2 linked regions of the Homo sapiens genome follow. The protein of the gene in region 2 purifies or fractionates together with the protein of the main gene of each other region. This does not show direct contact. Each region holds a gene or a part of one and is shown on either strand. Other genes may lie near its edges.

Region 1 (3,831 bases), on a different chromosome or scaffold from region 2:
TCAATATGTCTTATTGCTGGTAACATTAAACTTGATCACTTGCTTAAAGTGATATCTGCCATATTTCTCTACTGTAAAGTTAACATTTTTCACTTTCCATTCTCTACTTGTTAGAAGCTACTCAATAAGTTCATCCCACATCACTCAAAGGGAGGAGAGAATTGAAGAATTTATGGATATATCACCATCTTTTTTTTTTTTTTTTGAGACAAGGTGCTTGTTGCCCAGGTTGGAGTACAGTGACGTGGTCCTAGCTCACTGTAGCCTCGAATTACTGGGCTCTAGTGATCATCGTACCTCAGCCTCCTGAGTAGGTGGGACTGCAGGTGCATACCACCACACCTAGCTAATTTTTTTACTTTTTATTTTTTATTTCTGTAGAGAAGAGGTCTTGCTATATTGCCTAGGAGGATCTTGAACTCCTGGCCTCATGCAGTCCTCCCGCCTTAGCTGAGATTTACAGTCATGAGCCACTGTGCCCAGCCAACCATAGTCTTCTATACTTTGAACCTACCCTAATAAAATCTTCGATCAAATATAATTCATTTTGACCTAGGGAGCAGAGTATACTTTTTTTCTGAATGGCTTTCTAGCTATCTCTGCACCATTTAATGAGTAACCATTTCTTCTCCCTAATTTGAAATGGTATCTTTATTATATACCATATACCTATGTGTATTCTATTTCTGAACTCTTTATTCTTTTTTTAATTATTCTATCCCTTCTCCTATAACAGACTTCTAATGAATATAGCTTCAAATATAAGTTTCTATATCTGTCAAGAGTGGTTTCATGGGAGGATTCTTTGTCTTTTTTTAATGATAGGGACGATTATCAAGATGAACAGAGCCTGAGAAGGGAGTCAAAATTGAAGCTCAGAAGGGATGGTATCAGATGGAGGAATGTCTCTAGACAACGGGAGAGATAAGCCTTCTCATCCAGCTAGAAAGATTAACCCCAGTGGAGAAGAATATAGTCTGTTTCACTATATTCATTGAGTACAATCAACGGGAGAAAAGACATCTCTTCTGCTATAAACTGAGATAATGAACAAAGTATGGGCACAAATACAGATTATATTAGAAGTTACTGCCAAGGAGTTGAGAAAATTCCCATCTAATTGCTTCTGTCTTTATGAGGTTTGATGCTAGGGTACCTGCCCTGGATAAAGGAAAGAAGAGGTGGAGTTGAAGGTTTGAGGACAACAGAGAAGGTTCAGTGAACATTTTTGCAGATAAATCTTTGCATATTTCTGTTCATTTCCATAAAATACTTTTTGCTGACTCAAAAATGTATACATTTTTAAGGATATCAGAAGATACTGTGGCCAGGTGCAGTGGCTCACGCCTATGATCCCAGCAATTTTAGAGGCTGAGGCAGGCAGATCACTTGAGGCCAGGAGTTCGAGACCAGCCTGGCCAACATGGCAAAACCGCATCTCTACTAAAAAAAAAAAACAAAAATCCAAAAATTAGCTGGGTGTGGTGGTGCACACCTGTAGTCCCAGATACTCTGGAGGCTGAGGCGTGAGAATCGCTTGAAACCAGGAGGCAGAGGTTGTGGTGAGCTGAGATTGCACCACTGCACTGCAGCCTGGGTGACAGAGTGAGACTCTGTCTCAAAAAAAAAAAAAAAAAGAAGAAGAAAAAGAAGAAGATACTGCCTTAAGAACCTGACCATAAAACAAAGTTTGTGCTTAAAGCCATTGACCTAACACGGTGATTATACTACTCCATATTACTCTCAAAGTGTTCAGCTTTCATGACTAATCCATAGTTAAGCCTGACATGAGCTAAATTGAATAAATTTGCTTATTAGTTTTAAAATATTTAAGATTTGAAAACATTGCTTTATGAGAAAAAGCTATTCAAAGTGTTCACCTAGGAAAGATTATAGTATATTTCACTATACTCATTGAGTATAGTCATTCACTTATATTTTTTCAGTCTACTGAGGAAAACTAATTTTAAGGAAGATAATAATTTTCGTAATTTTTGTGCAGCATATCAGTGCTTTCATGCCTTAAAAATTAAGAAAAATTATCTACCTCTATGTGCTACAAGATGGTCTTCAACTTCTACTGTGCCTCGAATTACTACCCATTATACTATTTATCCCCGGGATAAGGACAAGAGATGGGAAGGTAAGTAATAATTTGTGTACAATTCCTGAGACTTTTCTGGATACTTTGTTTTCATTTTGTGGAGGAGAGTATTAATATTTTTCATAATTTAAAAACATCTAATAATATTTTGTGGCTTTACCAAGTCACATGCTGCATAATGACCCTTCAGTCAACAACACGACAATTATAATGGTAATCCCTTGACATTATAATGGAGCTGAAAATTCCTATCACCTAGTGACATCTTTTAGAACATAGCTTCCAGACCATCGTAGCTCAACACATTACTCAATTATTTGTGGTGAGTCTGATGTAAACAAACATACTCTACTGCCAGTTCTTTAAAAGTCTACCATATACAATTATGTACAGTACATGATACTTGATAATAAACGACTGTTACTGGTTTATGTATTTACTGTATTATACTTTTATCATTATTTTAGAGTGTACTCTTACTTAATTTTTTTAAAAAGTTAACTGTAAAACAGACACAGGCAGGTCCTTCAGGAGGTATTCTGGAAGAAGCTACCATTTGCATAGGAGATGACAGCTCCATGCGTGTTATTGTCTTTGATGACCTTCCAGTGGGAGAAAATGTGGAGGTGAAAGATATTGATGATCCTGACCCTGTGTAGGCCTAACTAATGTGTGTGTTTGTGTCTTAATTTTTAATAAAAGAGTTTAAAAGGTAAAAGGAAAAAAAATTTTAAAAAGAAAGAAACTTATAGAAAAATGATATAAAAACCATTTTTTGTACAGCTGTACAATGTGTTTGTGTTTTAGCTAAGTGTTATTACAAGAGAGTCAAAAAGTTTAAAACATTTAAAAGCTTATAAAATAAAAACATTACTGTAAGCTAAGTTTAATTTACTGACGAAAAAATTTTTTTATAAATTGCGTGTAACCTAAGCATACAGTGTTTATGAAGTCTATAGTAGTGTAATGTCCTTGTCCTTCACATTCTCACTGCTCACTCAGTCACTCACCAAGAACAGCTTCCAGTCCTGTAAGTTCTATTCATGGTAAGTACCCTGTACAGATATACCATTTTTAAATATTTTATACTGTATTTTTGCTGTACTTTTTCTGTGTTTAGATGTGTTTAGTTACATACATACTATTATAGTTGCCTACAGTGTTCAGTATAGTCAGTCACATGCTATATAGCTTTGTAGCCTAGGAGCAATAGCCTATACCCTGTTGCCTAGGTGTATCATAGGCTGTTCAATTAGTTTGTGTAAGTATACTCTATGATGTTTGCAAAAGGGCAAAATTGCCTAACGATGCATTTCTCAGAAAGCATTTCTGTCATTAAGTGACTTGTGACTGTATTTTACACAAGTAAATATTTGCTAAATGTATAATAATAAATCTCAAAGCCAAGAATTAGTTTATGGAAACTGAAATAAAGTATGTACTGGAACAGAACCTAAGAATATAATCATACTAATACAGTAATATGCTTAATATAATTATTGTGCAAAACACAGGGAGAATTTCCATAAATAATACTCTAAAGCACAGTGGATATTTTTTAACTGTCATGTGATTTATCATGTGATTATTGGGTTATATTAATCCCAGAATTTTTATTTCTCCCAGGAGTGAACATGGAAAGGTTTGCAGAAGAAGCAGATGTTGTAATAGTTGGTGCAGGCCCTGCAGGGCTCTCTGCAGCTGTTCGTCTAAAACAGTTGGCTGTG
Region 2 (3,831 bases):
ATGTCTTAAAGTCTCCTGCTGTAACTGTGAATATGTTCATACCTCTTCTGAGTTCTGTGTTTTCTTTGTTTAGTTTATGGCTTTATTTATTTTCAAACTATGTTATTAAGGATGAAATAGACTTAGGATTATGATATATTTAAGGTGGACTGGTCCCTTTGGCATAATGAAATGCTCCTTTTCACTTCTAGTAGTCCTTTTTGCCTTAATGCTTTATTTGAAATTAGTGTATCTACACCAGCTTTCTTTTTCCATCCTTTCATTTTCAACATTTTGATGTCCTTATATTTAAAGTATGCCTTTTTTAAGCTACACATGGTGGTGGTAGTTGTTTTTCATGAAGTCTGAGGATCTTAGACTTTTACTAGGTTTATTTAATCTTTTTGTATTTAATTTAATTACTTCTATATTTGGGTTTATATCATCTTATCATCTGTTATCTATTGACCCATCCATTTTTCATACTTATTTATTTTGGATTAACCAAATATTTTTATTAATTTATAGTTCTCTTATTAACTTGCTAGATATGCATTCATTCCCTGTTATTTCAGTTGTTACACTGGAGATTATAACTTGTATCCTTGATTATAACCTAACCAGAACATTACACTTCATAATAATCCTAGAACAACAGAATATTTTAACTCCATGTAAGACCCCCTAGCTTTTGTGTTTTTATTGTCTTACATTTCAATTCCATATATTTAACTTAAACTTCACTAAACTTAAACTTTCACAGAAAATTATGACTACTGTTTCGGATAATCAATACTAAGCTATAGTGTATGCTCTCCTCCATATTTTCTTTTAGAATCATTTTCCTTCTGCCAAAGGGAGCTCCCTTGCAGTACCTTCTTTTAGTGAGAGCCTGCTAGTGATAAATTCTCTCAATATCTGTTTGCCTAAACTATTTTTATTTCATCTTAATTTTTAAAAGATATTTTCACTGAATATAGAATTGTAGGCTAGCACAGTCAGCAATTTAAGATGTTATGCCATTGTGCATACAGGTGTGGTTTTCTTTGAATATAATCTTAAAAGTTAACAAAGCTTGTGTAATGATGTTCTGAAATCTTCATGAGAATTTTTTTTTAGATACTGTTAGAGATTTTCTCTCTCTTCTTTTTCTGGAATTCAAATTGTATATAAGACAGATCTTTTGACCAGATCCCAAATGTGTTTTATCCTCTTTTCTGACTTGTGCTTCAATTTGGACATTTTCTATTAACTAGCCTTCCAGTTCATTATTGCTATCATCTACTGAGTCCGATATGTTATAAGCCTATTCATTGAGTTCTTATTGTCAGATATATATTTCTCTGATGGCTCCACAAAGTTTACTTGATCCATATACATACATGTACACACACACACACACACACACACACAAACTTTCTAGGGTAATTCTCCACCCTCTTACCTCTTTTGTTCCTTATTTTCTCTATGTTCCTAAGCATAACAATCAAGATGTTCTTGTCTGCTAACTCCAATATCTGGATCAGCTGTGCTTCTGCTTTTTATTGTTTCTTTCCCCTTTGTTATTGATCAAATACTCCTGTCTCTTCATCTACTTAGTTTTTTATTGAATGCTGGTTTATAGAAGTTCCAGATAATGAGAGGATTGACTCCTTGGCTCTGCTGCGCAGATAGAGTAAAAGTACATAATTCAATAAAAAATTCAAAGGGGTAGAGGCTGTATTGTGGGTTTGAGATGACCTGGTCTACATCTGGTTTGCCTCTAATTGTAAGACCTAACTCTCCATGGCTTTCAATTGAGAGTATGATGGGTCTTTGTCACTTCATTACCAAGTGATAGCTTCACTTTCCAGATATTTTCTACTTACCTTTCACCATTCACACCTTTAGAATTTGGCAAATAAAAGGTCAAGTATGTGTTTAAATCCCCTCAAAATTTCAATTTTGTCACTACAGCCCCACAAAATATGAGTTCTATATACCTGGATTCTACACACCTGGTTGAGACCAAATAGCAAGTGTAGCCAACTAAAAAGCAGCTATAGGTCATCGGTGTCAACATGCCACTCATTTCAGGGCTTTGAACTCACACAGCTGATTCTCTTAAGCCAATCCACCTACACACACACACACACACACACACACACACACACACACACACACCCATGGCACAGGGTAGGTCTCTGTCTCTTAAGCACTTCAAAACTCAAGAATTTTCTACTGTGCTTTTCAGAAGTCTCCAGCTTAGCTTTTTAATATCAAGTTCAGAATTGAGTGGAAAAACTAGCTGTGGTTTCTAGGACCATTTAAGTCTCTAATTTTTTAACTCCCTTGAGCAACAGTCAAAGACTCTGCTCCTTTCTCTATCCCCGAGCAAATATTTATTTTGGTTTATAACTTCCAAACCATGTATCAAGGATTAAGCAAGAAGTATGAATTCCTCAAGTGTCCCAGAGGCATTTTAGTGTATAGAGTATGATAATGTGTGTTCAACGAATCGTTTTTGCCTTTAATATGCTTTCTTTTCTTGATCAGGCGTTCCAAAAGATATATATTGGGGTTTAGTTGACACACAACGAATAAAACTCAGCGATCTAATGAGTCATAAGACAAAAACAACTGATAAAACACAGCTAATTAAAAGAGATTATAATATAAATTTTGGTTACTATAGAATTCATCAAGATGAATTAAAAAAGCTTCACTCTGGGGGAAAAAAAACCCTCATTTTCCATATAAATATTTGGTTATAGGGCCCTCTTCTTTAAAATCATCTCTAAATCCTAGCAGGAAAAAGCTAAGTATCAAAATTTTACCTCTTTTGATACATCAAAAGAAAACAGGAGAGGTACCATCATCAGCAACGAAGAGAGTCTCAAATAGACCCAAAGCAATCAAGAAGCTGGCTTTCACTGTCACAACCGGATGAAAGCATCCCAAAACAAAACAAAATAATGACGCTAATAAGTCAGAGGTCTGATGCATCACTTTCTCATTCAGTAGAGATCGCTTGTCTCCTCTTTCATCTTTCCCAGTAGGATAGAGCCCTAAGGAAAATGGATCTGCATTCTAGGATCAGACAAAGATGCGACCAACAGATTTAACACAGTGATGCAAAAGCAAACTGCTATCGATGTAAATATAAACAACTTCACCCTTCTTTCTGCCCCTAACTCTACTCTCTTTGCTTCCACGGTTGCCAAAATGAAGTATTAGTATACTTGTGCTTTACAATAAGCTGCTACAAATGCTTTTTGAATGTTTAAGGTATTATTTATATATATATAGATAGATACGTAAATAAAGTTCTAAAAGTGCTTGCCCTGACCATATGTGAATGCCCTCCGCACTGCGCCATCATAAAACATCATATCCCCATACAAAAGCACCATCTACACTAAAAATACAAACCCCAGGATAAGTGGTGGATATATGTTGCAAACAAGAAGACAACTCTAGTTTAACTATAATTTGGAACGTCTGGCTATTTGAAAGAAAACCCGGTGTCTGACTTGATTTGAAAATGCCTGCAAAAAGCGTTATTTTCATGAAGCTATGAATAACTCAATCTGAAATATTGCTCTTAATTACAGCAACTACAAATAGAATGGCTCGGGATCATTTGTAAGCATGTCAAGTGTTTAGATGGTGTCAAGTGAGTCTTCACAAACATTTACTATAACAAATCTTACATCTTCTACTAAATTATAAAACACTCTTCACCTAAAAACATCCTAGGCTATACTTTTACAGTAGTATCTGCAGGTTATTTTCATGTAACTAACCCAAGAAAGAGCCTGTAAAAGCTATGAAAATGCCAAAGCTCTTAAAAGTGGTAAATATAAAATGCCC

Evidence for each region.
Region 1: the proteins of BCKDHB (region 2) and ETFDH fractionate together in Homo sapiens (co-fractionation; one large-scale study listed by BioGRID). This does not show direct contact.

Annotation. Positions count from the first base shown.
Region 1 is NC_000004.12:158,678,465-158,682,295, forward strand, and holds part of ETFDH (electron transfer flavoprotein-ubiquinone oxidoreductase, mitochondrial isoform 1 precursor), read left to right. Parts: intron 1-2,002; coding exon 2,003-2,143; intron 2,144-3,643; exon of another isoform or gene 3,644-3,730; coding exon 3,731-3,831. UniProt on the Homo sapiens protein: Accepts electrons from ETF and reduces ubiquinone.
Region 2 is NC_000006.12:80,204,103-80,207,933, reverse strand, and holds part of BCKDHB (2-oxoisovalerate dehydrogenase subunit beta, mitochondrial isoform 1 precursor), read right to left. Parts: exon of another isoform or gene 2,464-3,831; intron 1-2,463. UniProt on the Homo sapiens protein: Together with BCKDHA forms the heterotetrameric E1 subunit of the mitochondrial branched-chain alpha-ketoacid dehydrogenase (BCKD) complex.